Linked DNA regions of Homo sapiens. The protein of the gene in region 1 purifies or fractionates together with the protein of each later gene. This does not show direct contact. Each region holds a gene or a part of one and is shown on either strand. Other genes may lie near its edges.

What was found. Proteins that work in one complex are often made in the same cells at the same time.
Region 2: the proteins of MCOLN2 (region 1) and GOLIM4 purify together in Homo sapiens (affinity purification with mass spectrometry; one large-scale study listed by BioGRID and IntAct). This does not show direct contact.
Region 3: the proteins of MCOLN2 (region 1) and MTCL3 purify together in Homo sapiens (affinity purification with mass spectrometry; one large-scale study listed by BioGRID and IntAct). This does not show direct contact.
Region 4: the proteins of MCOLN2 (region 1) and RHBDD1 purify together in Homo sapiens (affinity purification with mass spectrometry; one large-scale study listed by BioGRID and IntAct). This does not show direct contact.

The regions. Positions count from the first base shown.
Region 1 is NC_000001.11:84,934,614-84,938,113, reverse strand, and holds part of MCOLN2 (mucolipin-2), read left to right. Parts: intron 1-31; coding exon 32-133; intron 134-236; coding exon 237-359; coding exon of another isoform or gene 360-410; exon of another isoform or gene 411-520; coding exon of another isoform or gene 521-547; exon of another isoform or gene 548-1,748; intron 1,749-3,500. UniProt on the Homo sapiens protein: Nonselective cation channel probably playing a role in the regulation of membrane trafficking events. Acts as a Ca(2+)-permeable cation channel with inwardly rectifying activity.
Region 2 is NC_000003.12:168,093,125-168,097,277, reverse strand, and holds the start of GOLIM4 (Golgi integral membrane protein 4), read left to right. Parts: upstream 1-1,353; 5' UTR 1,354-1,992; coding exon 1,993-2,179; intron 2,180-2,451; exon of another isoform or gene 2,452-2,566; intron 2,567-4,153. UniProt on the Homo sapiens protein: Plays a role in endosome to Golgi protein trafficking; mediates protein transport along the late endosome-bypass pathway from the early endosome to the Golgi.
Region 3 is NC_000006.12:127,481,336-127,484,835, reverse strand, and holds part of MTCL3 (microtubule cross-linking factor 3 precursor), read left to right. Parts: intron 1-1,851; coding exon 1,852-1,923; intron 1,924-3,500.
Region 4 is NC_000002.12:226,860,054-226,863,553, forward strand, and holds part of RHBDD1 (rhomboid-related protein 4), read left to right. Parts: intron 1-3,500. UniProt on the Homo sapiens protein: Intramembrane-cleaving serine protease that cleaves single transmembrane or multi-pass membrane proteins in the hydrophobic plane of the membrane, luminal loops and juxtamembrane regions.

The DNA of each region.
Region 1 (3,500 bases):
ATTTCTCTCTTTCTTTTTTTTCATTCCTTAGAATCTCACAAACTATGATCTCTGCAGCATTTTTCTTGGAACCTCTACGCTCTTGGTTTGGGTTGGAGTCATCAGATACCTGGGTTATTTCCAGGCATATAATGTAAGGATGCGGCACCGGGTAGTGCCACTGCAGTTGAGACTCATTTATTCTTTGGGTTCTAATAGCTACTTTTTCATTTCACCCATTCTGTTCTTTTTTTCAGGTGCTGATTTTAACAATGCAGGCCTCACTGCCAAAAGTTCTTCGGTTTTGTGCTTGTGCTGGTATGATTTATCTGGGTTACACATTCTGTGGCTGGATTGTCTTAGGACCATACCATGACAAGGTGTGTAGCTCACATTCTTCCTTCTGCAGATGGGGCACGTGGGACCCTTGAACGTGGGTTTCTAGCACTTACTTGCTTCCTGGTCTTCTCTAGCATGTACCCTTGACATCAGTAATCACATATCTTTGTATCAGTTTTCTTTTTCTTTTTTTCCTTTTCAGGATATAGAAGTGACTACAGGATATTGAAACAAGAACTGTACAATACTAGAAAGCATGTATTATAGTTGTCTGGGACTGGCTTAAGGGGTCACATGGTTACCCGGTGATCATCAAATGGGAAATGTTTGGACGTGAGATCACTATATTAAAAATGAAAATTAAGTGAGGAAAATTATTATAAAAAATTTCCAATTTAAAGTATTATGTTTTTCATCCAAGTTAATTGAGAAGAATGAAGATGGGCAGAGACTGCCTAAAACGACCATAGTAGGTTTACGATAGAAATGGTGACACGTCTTGTCTCTGCAGACGGTTTTGATTACAGCATCATCTTTCTGCCTTATTAAAGATCAGTATCTGAATTCTAAACTATTACCAAACTTCAGTTAGCATTATAATCTCAGGGACATCAAAGTTGTGCTAAGATGTTCTTGTTATAAAATGATACATTTGATTGGTAGATGCATCAGGAAATGAAACTAGGTAAGCCTTGGTTTTAACCCAAAAAAGTAAAAGGAGTTATTTTATCTTATGGCTTTTCCTCCATTTGGGCCTGTGGCAGTTGGAACAACAGAAACAACAAAAATAGCAGCAGCTAACACTTACTGCTTGTGTGTTAGACACTCTGCTGGGCATTTCGGTGTTCTTTCTTATTTACTCCCCACAACAACCCAGGGTACTGTTAGCCTCACTTAGGTGCTCTGCAAGGAGAAAAGAGGTTAAAAATGGTAAGTATTCCTTCCAAGTTTGTATACCAGTTCAGCCTTAAGTTTTGACCTTGTTAGTTGCATTAACCAAATCTGTGATCAAATCTGGTTTACAAACTGTTATACATGAATCTTAAACCTCCGTGCTGTCCTACCAGAATAATGTCGAGTAACCTGGAACACTCAGACTTTCTTCTTTTTAGGTGTCACATTTAATATGTCTAGAGAGAATTACTGTTTTTCCTATTTGAGATATTATATAATTAACAAAGTGACAACCTCTGGGTTGGTAGTAAATCTTGATAATATTGCTCTTCATACTCCATGTCACTGCTTTAAAGGTGACTCATGAGAAAAAATTATTCTTTGATATGATCTCTCTGATTTGGAGAACTTACTGTCTTAGAGCCTGGAAAAATGTATTTTTCTTCCTTGCTTGCCTCATGCTCTGAAAGCTTTTCCACCTCTTTGTCACTAGAGGGCAGTGTTGCACTGTGTGGAATAAATACCGTTCCTGAGGATTCGGCTTTAATTCACTGACTCCAAGGTCTGTGGACAAGTGGTCCCATCTCCTTTGCACCCCATCCCCGTCTCCCCTACCTCATCATTATTCTGGAAGGTGCTCAGATAAGATTGCTAGAATTTTACTAGATGGCTACCATTCTCAAGTGCTGTCTGTTAGGCATGGTGCCCAAGATTCTTCATCTCCCTTGCTGTGTTAACCCTTCCCTCCCCTTCTCTGTGAAGAAATCTGATTGTCCTGTTACAGAGAATAGGCACCTTAATATATTAAATAATATTCCTGAGATTACCCAGCTAGAAAGTGGCAGAGATGGGATTCAAACCCAGGTCGGCCTGACTCCAGTACCTGTGCTTTGACCCATACCCTGTAGAGCTTTTCTTGGTATTATCTAAAACAGATCATTGCAAGAGAGCATTTAGCCTGACAAGAAACAGTCTTGTACTTGGAGATCAACTGTGAGAGGACAGCCATGTAATCGGCTTCATTCTTTCAATGGTGTCAAGGTCACCTCATGGAAAATGAGGTTATTTGTTTTGTGAGCCTGACTGCATTTCCATATGTTCAATTTGTCCTTTCAAAGGATCCAGGTGAAACTGGGATGCTCTGAGCCAGCACTGTCCAAGAAAAATACAGTTTGGGCTACAATTGAGAGCCTTGCCTATACTGTAAAATTTTCTAGTAGCTACATGAAGAAATAAAAAAACAGATGAAATTATTTTTAATTATATATTTTAAGCCTAATATACCCAAAATATTATTTCAGCATGTATTCAGTATAAAATATTGAAATATTTTACATTCCTCCATACTAGTCTTTTTGATCTGGTGGATATTTTATCCACATAGCACGTCTCAATTTGGACTAGCTATCTATTGGATGCTGGCTATTCACACATTCCTGGTGACTACCACTATGGACATTGCAGCTCTAGACTTATGTCTTTCACTTAATGTTAGCTTTCCTTTATACCCCTGGAGGAGGGGAGGGATAAGGGATGTCTGTAGGGTTGCCTGCAGGTCTGTTTATGGCATCTCTCACCAGGCTGATATATTGGGGAAATACACAGCTGAGTTAATTCACTGAATGTACAAGTCAGTTGGGGGAGAGAACGTCAGTCTGGTTTTGGAACTTTGTGCTTTTCTTCACCATATTGCTGCCTCTTTGAATCTGAAGTTAGAATATTTTATTGCCCCTTGCATCCTTTCCCCCAAATTAATCCAAGCTGTCAGCATGTTCAGGTTCTGCCAGTATCTGAATCAGAGGACTTTCAGGTTACCTGAAGCCTTGAAAAGCTAGGCATTCCAAGCGGGCATTTTTGTGGGATTTTTAGAATCACAGCAACCTTGATTGTGAAAGCTAATTCTTTCTTTAAAACAAAACAACTAAAAAGGAGACATTAGGAAAACCGTTTGACTGATAGCTGGGGTCCCATAACACTTCAGCTTCCTATCTTCCTGTTAGGCATCTGATTTCAGGGGCTCAATGGAAAGGGAGTCAAGATGCAAAAGGCTTCCTGCTGATGTGTATTCCCAGCACTAATGGACTTTGGCACAGTGCCCTTTCAAAATGCCTGGGCACAGAGGGTGAGAGACTGTTGATGTTCTTCCAGACCTCATCTTGAATTATTAAACATTACTCTAATGCGGCTTTTACATTTCCAGAGGACTTTTTTTCCTGTGAGGAATAAATCATAGCCTTGCATTGTCCCCATTTTACAAATGAGAAGACCAAGACTTGAAAAGTTGTTGG
Region 2 (4,153 bases), on another chromosome or scaffold:
GAAAGCATTTTGAATAATTTAACGCAAGTTATTATTTATTAAGGAAAAGCACATGCAAGACACACTTTATTTTTACAGTGGTATAAATGCCACAGGGTAGCATCGTTATAAATTCAGTTTATTTTAGGGCTTTAGCAACCTATAATTTCAGAGTCCACCTAAAAAAACTTTTGCACCAGGAACTGTCTTTCTGTTGCATTTAGCTAAAGAGATTTACCCCCATTTTGAGCACTCAGGCCCATTAGCAATGGTAACGACTAAAGTCCAGTTAGAATATAAAAATTATGCAGTGTATCATAAATTACACCACACTATACAGACAGATAAAATTTACTTTTCTTAGAATTCAGGTCAACAGCAGAAACAAAAATTATCATTTGTGCATAACCTTAATTATTCCCCTCAAGTACACAGAAAAAATAAATGCAGTATACATTTCTTCGAAGAGGTTTGTGGTTACTACCTTTCCTGTGCTGTACTAGTTTTTACATAGGGAACCTTTGTTGCCCTTTAAAATGTAATTTAGAAATGTAACTGATGTGTTTTGCCACCAATAAAACAAATACATATGACAAAATGAATGGATACTCATTTCAGTCTGTACGATTTGTTTTTAAATTATTCTATTTGCAGCTAGAGGAGAAATGTGAGACCATTTCTTTCCTCTCTGCCAATGGCAAGCCGATTTCCCCAGCCCACGTGGACAATTGAACATTAAGTCTAGCGTGCTTCCAGTCTCCCGACTCCTGCCGGGCCATCTGTGGGCACACACACATCTAGGCTAGTACACTGGATGGGGTAAGGCAGTCGACATGGCATCTCTGGTTTGACTACCGGGATTGTGCTATGTAGCTATCCCATGTGTCTGCCGCATCAGTTTATTGGACAGGGAAAGAAAGTGTACTCAGCAGAGTGCACACAGTTACTGCCATCCATTCTTTCGTTCATACACACATTTTACTCCGCTCTCCACGTGCGTTCCGAACGAGAACTGGAACACACACACACACACACACACACACACACACGTGTTCACCGAACCTCACCCAGACTCAGGCCCGGACAAGTCCCCCGCCCACCCAAAGCTCCCCGCCCTTCGCCCTTCCGCCTGCCTCTTCCCACCCTCTCCGACTCCACGTGGGCGCACCCCGGCGCCAGGCGGCCGCGCTGCCCACAGAGCCCCTAGCCGGCCCCGGCACTGGGAGGGAAGGTGCGGCCCTGGGGTCGGACGGACAAAGCCGGCATCCAATCGAGCCCGGCACTGCCTCCCCGAAGGGAGGGAGCGTCTGCTCGGACGGGCCCAATGAGCAAGGAGGCCGAGTGGGACTTCCTCCCGGAATCCCGTTGGCCAGAATAGCCGGGCCGTGGGTGACACGTAAGTTGGGCAGGAGGTGGCGGGGCGGCAGAGGCACCAGCCGACCCGTCAGTGACACCGCTGTGCCGTCCCCAAAACCAGCCGAGACAGCTGGCCCCCACCCTTCCACCCATTGGGCAGGCCGCACGGGGGCGCGGCCCGGAGTCCTGGTCCCTTTGTTGGGCGCGCACCCCCTCCCTTAGGTGGCAACAAAGTCGTGCAGTGGGAGCCGCCGCGATAGGGCGGGGAGTGGCCAGGGCGGGACTCCAAGAACTGCCCGGGGGCAGCGGGGCCAAAAAGTGGGAAGAAGGAAAAAAGGCAGGAGGCATCTGGGGACAGGCGCGAGGGCAGCCGGCTCTGAAGTATGCGGAGGGCCTCCTCCCGGCCCCGGGCATTCGCGGAGAACGAGCCTCGCAGAAGTTTGGCTGCAGCTGCCCGGGCGGCGTCGATGGCTGCGCGCCCCGCGCCGCGCGGGGGCTGAGCGGGCGCCACTTCCCCTCCGGGCCGGCTTTTGTGTCTGGCATCTCCTCCTCATGCTGCGTCTGGCCACCTACTGCGGCGGCCGCTGCTGAGACGCTCGCTCGGACCAAGGGGAGGAGACGGCGGGGGCGGCCGCGGCTTTGGGTCCAGGCGGGACTATGGGAAACGGGATGTGCTCCCGAAAGCAGAAGCGGATTTTCCAGACGCTGCTGCTGCTGACCGTCGTGTTCGGCTTTCTCTACGGCGCGATGCTCTACTACGAGCTGCAGACGCAGCTGCGGAAAGCCGAGGCGGTGGCGCTCAAGTACCAGCAGCACCAGGAGTCCCTCTCCGCCCAGTTACAAGGTACGGCTAACGGGACGCGCGCAGCCGGTGGCCAACTTTGCCCCGCGCCTCCACCCGGGCAGGAAAAGTGGCTTTGGTGAGCTATTGGCACTGTGGTTGCCACCTCTGACCTTCAGGGACGTCAGAGGTGAGCGTTTCAGGACTGCCGGCACCAGAGTGTCAGGGGAGATGACATTCTCATCCTCCCGCTTCTTCCTCCCAGCGGTTAGGTTTAGAACTTCGTAGCACCAGCCCATCGTCCCGCTGGGCGTTTGGTGGGCGGGTGCACAGATAGTCCTTTACCCGAGCTCTTGTCAAAGGCCCAGCTGCAATCGGGGCAGGGAAACTGGTAGCCCTCCGCCGCTTCTGCCAGCCCTGCTCTGAGGAGCATTGTTCCGTGGATTCTAGGTATTTGCTTTCTTGTTGACTTTGTCAGTTGCTTAAAAAATGAAGAGTTTGGCAGAGATTTCTCAAACTGTGCTGTTTTTCAAGGGAAAATTAAGCCATGACCCAGCAGCTTAATTAAAGTCATGGCCCAGTCGAATGGAAGGAACCTAGATCTGGACCTGCTAGTTTCTTATTTCTTATTCTTTTAATTTAATAGGATGTCTTTAGAGATGCTGGATGTGTGGGAAAAGTCCACACTACATACCATTCACCATCCTGCAGTAGTTTATTTCTTTAAAAACAGGTTTACTTGTCTTCCTAAGTAGCTTTTACTTCATCACAGAGATGCATGTATGTTACAGTTAGCTTCGGGAAGCCAAAGAGGAGAAACACAGGTTTTCACTTTGCCATGCACAGCAAACCCAACTTGAGCAAGACCTGTAGAAGAACTTAAAGTTTCTATCCTATTTTAGAATCTAATTTAATGTAATTTTCACAAACATAATTTACTTTAAATGTAAATTCAGAATTTGAATTTGAATTTACTTTTAACGTAAATTCAAAGTCAGCACCATGTCCTCTTGTTAAGGACGTATCCTATACATATTTTTTTTGCAAGCTTTTACTTGTGGTTAGTTTTCAATACTTATGCAGCTTTCTCCCCAACCAAAAAATAATAATAAATAGCTGTAAGTGGTGAAATGTTGGCAGACTTTGCTGATGATGCAAATATAGCTTGTTTAATATTGCTAGGTAGATAGATGCAAGCTAGAGGGATGTTTCTGTGTATGTGTGTGCAGATATGAAACAGATGCCTCTTCTTTGCTTCAGTTATTTTGAGTGTTTTCTAGTAAAAAATTTAAGATGAGAGAAAATGATACACATCCGATTGTTTGGACTTAACTTGCTCTTCCCAACTTAGAAGAAAGAAAAGTATTTTTAGCTTACTGACGCTGCATAGCCACAGGCAATGAAAATATATGGCTCGGCTTGGTTCAAAAGTAAAACCCGTTTTGATACGCTCTTAGGTTCACAAAATTTTCTTTAAACTCATTGAAATTTACCCATGAGTTATTGTTGGTATGAGAATATGGATATTTGTTTACTTATTTATTTACAAGGTATCAGTTGCTTCCCTGTGAAGTTCCATGGAGTCAGACCAAGGGAAAAATTTACCGTCTAATAGTATAACAGGACTAGATTTTCATAAACATGGCTGGAAGGGGCATGTATGGTGGATTATATGAGGTTGTGTGTGCCTTGGTCTCTTAGGAGTCCCATGAGGGCAAAGGCTGTCATTTTCACCATTACCTCCTCAGCACCACACTGTGCCTGACACTCATTAGGGGAATCAATGCATGTTTATTCAAACAACAAACAAAAATTATTCTGAACTGTGGCGAGTAAGTTCATCCCAGGCACTTTTGTCTTTCTGAGACTTTGCTTCTGTGTCTTTGCTTTTTGAAAGCCAAATAAAACAAGAAAATATTTTGTTCAAGTAGCTCCTTTGCCTCAACGGCCTATGATGGACGATGGATATTGTTGACTGAGGCCCTAATTTCTGAATAATGGCCTTTATTTGCAGTATTTCATTTTGAAATTTTAGAA
Region 3 (3,500 bases), on another chromosome or scaffold:
AGTGTTTAAAAATTAGCTGAGATAATGTATGTGAAGGGGTTGACATGAATTAGGGCTCAATGACAGTTAATATTGTTCTTGTATTATCATTGCTTTCATAACACTGTGTTGAATTCCAGACTGAACAGATCATGCCAAGTAAGCTGAGAACCCCCAAAAGAGCAAAGATCACATTGGTTTCATTATTATTGTGTCACAGGTATGTTATGAAGTGCATTGGTAGTCACTAAATAAACACATAATTGAGTGAATTCAAATACAAGCATTCAATAAGTATTTAGTGAAACAAATTCAACGCTTCTTGTAGGCAGCCCCTACCTAGAATGTTCCAGGTTTCTTAGTTTAGCTCACTTTATTCTTGGTATTCTTGGGACTGTTTTGTTGATTACTTCCTAAATTACTTTTTGGTTATGGTGAGTCAGTCCCCAAGCTTTCCTTTCTAAGAAGATTATACAAGCAACAGAAAGAACTTCTTCCTGTAAAGAACTAGAAATGAATAACCACGTGGGCTATTCATTTGTCTGTGTAGTTTCAGTTTCATACTGAATGAAAGCAGTTGCACCAAAGTATTCCCCTGCCTTCTGTGCTTGAACGTATGCCTTTACTTAACAGTGGATATGGGTTAGAAATTAACATGTGAAGAATTTAATTTTCATTTCTTTGCGAATTTATGAAGACTCCTGTTTGGAAAAGGCTTCCCTATTTTTACTGTCAGTCTATACCCCTGTCCTTCTCTTTGACCTCAGAACCTCGATTTGGTATTCATATATCATTAGTTCAGCAAGTATTTTTTTCACCACCTGCCATGTGGCAAGCACTATTTTTATGGTGGTGATGCCACACTAAATCAAAACCCCTGCTTCACAGAACCTAAAGCATAGCATTTATCAATTTGCACTGTAATTGTTTGCTTCTCTGTCTCCTCCCCTGCTAAGTTTCAGCTTCCTGATGGTAGATGCAGTATCTAATCAAACTTTGAGTCTCCCCCTCAATGTGTAGTATATGGTAGACAGTCATACATACGGATAATTATTGTTTACATACAGAGACCCTTCTTCTTATATTGGTGTGAGAAATGGAACTGAGCACCAGAGATCATATTACGCTTGTCCTTGAAACAGTTTGGCACTAGCTGTGTATTCTTTGACTTCCAAAGTGTTAGTTTGAATTTTAATTAGGATCAGCCAGTAAAATGTGGGAGATTTTACATAAGAATCCAGATTCCCAGCTTCTCTTGTAAAAGCCCACATTCCTGTATCACACAATGAGCTGAAGCTGTGGCTGGTCCACCTGTTTCTTGAGATGGGGCATGCCTTCTCCATTTCACTACAACCCCTACCATGCCCTATCATTTTGCACGTGTCGAGGAGGAGCAAGGGGGTGATGTGTGGTGAGGGGAGAATGAAGTGCTTCCGATTCTACATAAATTCACTGAAAGTGTGTGTTCATAAGCTTATAGCAACCTAACTCCCAACATTGGAAATAATAACTTACTTTTTTTCCTTCAGTGATGTGGAATGCTAACAAGCATTTGTTTACATTTGAACTATATATCATATTGAGTCAACAATCAATTTTGTCTGTTGTTTTTCTGCATTTTCACAGTAGGTTTCCTGTATTTCTCAAATTAAATAATTGCCAGCTACATTCTACTGTGATGTGTATCCTAGTCCAAAGTAAAAATATATCTAAATCTATCTGGTTTAGGATTTTTTTTCCTCCTTTTATGATTATTGAACTAACTCTTTTTATTTGTCTTGGTTTTGTCGTTTGAGACTAGAATACTTAAAAACATAAAATTGAATTAAAATTATAGTTTATCCAACTAAATATATTCATGCTTTGTTTCAGTTATCCTTAAAAAGAAGAGGAAGCAAAGATTTGCCAAAATCTGAAAAAAAGGCTCAACAGACTCCCACAGAGGTATGTGGAAATAAAATTTCAACTAGTACACCAAGTACCTCTAAGTGTATATAATCACAAACTACATTTATAAATAGATATAATGGCCAGATAAACTTATGCAAAACAAAGTCAAATTTGCATATCAATTATGTAGCTGTAGATACAGGTAGTATAAATCAGAATATTTACTTATAAAGCCAACCATAACATCCCTATTATAATTGCTTTACATTGTAAGCACACAGAAAAATGTCATTCGTATTTTATACGCTGCTATATTTGAGAACTATACTCATGATGCTAATCTTGTCCTTTTATAATTAATAAGGTCAATAGAAAGGCTGTTCCTATAGTGTCAGGAGAAAGTAAAGAAAGGAATGTTGCAGAGGGAAGTCAGAAAGGAGAGAAAGGCTCATTATATCTTTAGAGAGCCCTGGAATGAAGTAATTCTCCATACCAGTGATTGGAGAAGCAAAAGAAAGGAGACAAAAGAATAAAAATGAAAGTTGAAAGATGTACTCAACATGGGTTTGTTAAAAACCTTAGAAGCACAGCCACAGTAAAGACTAGCTTTGCTTTCAAGGTAAAAAGAGGTGCCAATGGTTGTAATGAAGAAGATTTTAAAATGGAAGAGGAAACATTTGGGATAAAAATGACACTATTGTTAAGGAAGGGGATCCCAATCCAGACCCCAAGAGAGGGTTCTCGGATCTCGTGCAAGAAAAAATTCAGGGCGAGCCCATAGAGTAAAGTGAAAGCAAGTTTATTAGGAAAGTAAAGGAATAAAAGAATGGCTACTCCATAAGCAGAGCAGCCCTGAGGGCTGCTGGTTACCCATTTTATGGTTATTTCTTGATATGCTAAACAAGGGGTGGATTATTCATGCCTCCCCTTTTTAGACCATATAGAGTAACTTCCTGATGTTGTCATGGCATTTGTAAACTGTCATGGCACTGGTGGGATTGTAGCAGTGAAGACGACCAGAGGTCATTCCCGGTTTTGGTGAGTTTTAGCTGGCTTTTTTACTGGAATGCGTTTCATCAGCAAGGTCTTTATGACCTGTATCTTGTGCCAACCTCTTATCTCATCCTGTGACTCAGAATCCTTAACCATCTGGGAATGCAGCCCAGTGGGTTTCAGCCTCATTTTACCCAGCTCCTATTCAAGATGTAGTTGTTCTGGGTCACACGCCTCTGACATTATAACTCTCCAAAAGCACTTGGCTAGATATTAACCTTTAAACTATGTCAGTTGGAATCTATGGTACTGTAGTATACTTTTGTGATTACAAGGTTTTTTTCACATTAGATAGATAATTTAACTAAAGTGATTTTAAATATTCAAAATTTGAAAAAGTTGATCTCAGACATTTTTTAAAGCATAACATATTAACTATATATTATTTTCCTTTTTCCTCTCTGTACCTGCTCTGTTCCTGCTCTGTTTTCTCCTGGTACTTGCACCAGAACATGTATGGACCTCAGCATTTTTAGAATCCCAGAGAGTCTCACAGCCAAGACCATGATATCATTTTTTGTACCTTTCTCTCTGTTCCCTTAGTAAGTCCAAATATACTCTGTCACTACAGCTTTTCC
Region 4 (3,500 bases), on another chromosome or scaffold:
ATTTGGGGGTAGCAGGGTGATAAGGTTAAGGTCAAAAGACATGTCAAGGATCTTTCTATGTCTTTGGCTTGAACAACTGGATAGATGGAAATCCCATGTCTTGAGGTGGGGTGCATGAGAGGAGGAGCTGATTTGGAAGGGACAGTCCAGTGTTCAGCTTGGGGCATGTTGAGTCTGGTGGGGAGGGTGTGTTTGTAAGGTAAGGGAGCACAGGGACTGGCCTTTCTTGAACTCTGGTAACTGGCTTGTGGTCTGGATACAAGTTAGAATAATACATAAACCATTTCCAAAACCCAACAGATTTTACAGGTTTTCAGTTCACAGATAAGTTGCTATAATTGATGTTGCCTCTGTGGTCTTTCAGATAGCACAGCACTCTAAAAATTTCTATGTATTTGATGGGCATGACATTAACAATATTCATTTTATAGTCAGTGCTCACTTATTGTGATCTGTCTTCCTTGGTGTTCCTAGAGCCGTGCCTCCCTGGCCCACAGCGTCAGGTTACAGATTTGATCTTTACATGGATCAGTTGGATTTTCTAAGTTGTCTTGTGACAGGTTGCATCCCTCACCTTGGATGGCTGACTTGGTAACTGATTAGGAAGGAAACTGCCCTAGAGTTGTTATGAACTAGGACTGATTGGTCTTTGCTACTACTTAAGACTCAAAACGTATGTTCTACCTACACTGGGACTCTAATGGCCTTTGTTTACAAAGGTGGAGCCCAAAAGACGGGCACTTCTCACATTGGCTATGGTTATATCTCCTTTCGCATTAAGTATACATTTACTGAGAAGCCAAGCCACACAATTTTACTTCTCTTTTGATTTCCTGTGGACAATATTTTTATTTCCTTCAACAAATAGAAGTAGGCCATTTAGAGGCTGGGAATATAAGTGTTTTGTTATTTGCTGTACCTCCAGTGCCTGGCACAGGGACTGGCATGCATATGGCACTTGATACATGTTTATTAAATACATGAGTGAAAGAAGGAATGGCTGAATCATCATTCTGTGAGAAAGGATAATTCAGTTTTCAGAAACCAAGACATCAGGCAAACTATATCTTCTTCTAAGATTACGTCCCTGAAACCTGAGAAATCAAAGCTGAAAAATAGAAATTTGGGCATCATCCTGATAAAAAGAATTACAAAAATCATTAAAGTGGAAGCCCTTGAGTGTGTGCAGGAGAGAGTAGGGATAGAGGAGAAGTGAACAGCAGAGAAACGGGTTGGAAGGAGGAGTGAAGCCTCAGGAGAGCAAGGTGTCCCACAGAAGCAGGAGCAGTCAACAGTGGAGAGCTGGGAGGTGCGAAGGGATGCAGACAGAAAGACACCTTTTCATCCAGCCAGAAGTAACTCAGGAAAGTGCAATCAGAGCCTGGGACACAGTGTGAAGTAAGACTGGGAATTCTGTCCTTTTATCTATATTCTTCATTACTAATGATTGTAATTGAGGGGCAAGTTTTTCTTGAGCAAAGATGTAGTTAGTTTTGATTTTCTGCTACATAAAGCCCAGCATCATAAGACACTGTTGGCAATGATATTGAAGGGTTTATTTTGTGATTTCTTGTAAGCTGATTATTTACTGATCAATGATCAAGGCCAGTTTTTCCATTGTTCCTGTTAAAGGTAATAATGTTTGATATATGTAACATAAATATTTCTGTGTGTGTGTGTGGGCACACGTGTGCACACATATTGATAAATTTAGGAGAATTACAAAAAAGTTACGGTAGGTAAAGAGTTGAAAGTTGACTTGAGTTCTAATGTGAAAAATATAGGCCATTTATCCAAAGTTATGTGGGAGCATTTCAGTTTAAATTTCATTAAATTCTCTAGTTCATAAGAATGCTACAGAGCTACAATAATAACAATATAGAAACGGGTTGTGCTAATACATGGGGTTTTGCCAATAATGTGTGTGTGCATGCACGTGTATGTATATGGCTAATTTTGTGTGTGTATGCATACACATATATATATACACATGCATAATTTTTTTCTGAACATTGTTTTGGTGTGATGTTGATAATAAGAATCCATATGGGGGCATAGGAGTACATTTGAGTCTTTTTAGGATGTTACCATTTGCAAAGGAATTAATTCTCACATAAGTAAGTTTACTTTATAGAAATGAAAGTAGTAGCTACTGTTTATTCTGCATCTCTTTTGTTCCAAGCATGTCACAGTAATCCTGGGAAGGAGGTTTTATGTTTCTTAAAGGGAGGAAATTGAAGTTCAGAAAGTTTAAATGATTTGCCCCAGGTCACAGAGCTAGAAGATAGGAGAATCCTGCCTTTTTTTTTTTTTTTTTTAACTCTAAAACTCATGCATTGTCCAGTGTGCAGTCCAAGTTAGAATCCTTAGGGTATTAGAGTGAGTTACCTGTTTGGTTGGGGGCCAATTAATCTCCACAGAGAAAGCAGAAACCATTAGATGAGAACTTTTTCAACATTTTGCCCCTAATAGCTACACCTGATTTTTCTTTTCTTTCTGTTAAGAGGAAAAGACTCTTCCCTCCAAGCACTTGATCCTTTTTATTTATCTCTTGCATCTTTAGTCTGTGTCTCTGCCTGCATCTCTTCCCTTACTAGCTTCTTCTCATGAGCATGAAACAGTCCCTCCCTGGCTTAGTCCGTTTAGGGTTGCTATAAATACCTGAGTCTGAGTAATTTATAAAGAAAAGAGGTCTATTTAGCTCACAGTTCTACTGGCTGTAAAGTTCAAGATTGAGCATCTGGTGGGGGCCTCAGGCCATTTCCATTTGCGGTGAAAGGTGAAGGGGAGCTAGCATGTGCAGAGATCATGTGATGAGAGAGGAAGCAAGGGAGTGGGGAGGTGCCAGTCTCTTTTAACAACCAGCACTGGCAGGAACTAATAAGAGTGAGAACTCACTCATCCCCTGACCCCAGGGAGGGCATTCATCTTTTCATGAGGGATATTCCCCCATGACCCAAACACCTCCCATTAGGCTCTACTTCCAATACTGGGGATCGGATTTCAACATGAGGCCGGGCCTAGTGGCTCATGCCTGTAATCCCAGCACTTTGGGAGGCTGAGGCAGACGGATCACCTGAGGTCAGGAGTTTGAGACCAGCCTGACCAACACGGTGACACCTAGTCTCTACTAAAAATAGCCAGGCATGGTGACACATGCCTGTAATCCCAGCTACTCAGGAGGCTGAGGCATAAGAATCATTTGCACCCAGGAGGTGGAGGTGGCAGTGAGCCAAGATCATGCCATTGCACTCCAGCCTGGGCTACAGAGTGAGATTCTGGCTCTAAATAAATAAATACATTCATTCATTCATTCAACATGAGGTTTTGGAGGGACAAACACCTAAACCACAGCACTCGCGAAAGGCAATACCTTCTGTATTAGTTAGTAGTTGTTGCATAACAAACCACTCCAAAGCTCAGTGAAGTAAACCAAGTACCATTTATTTAGCTCACTGTTTTGTGGGTCAGCAAATTAGGCTGGGCTCAGCGAGACTCAC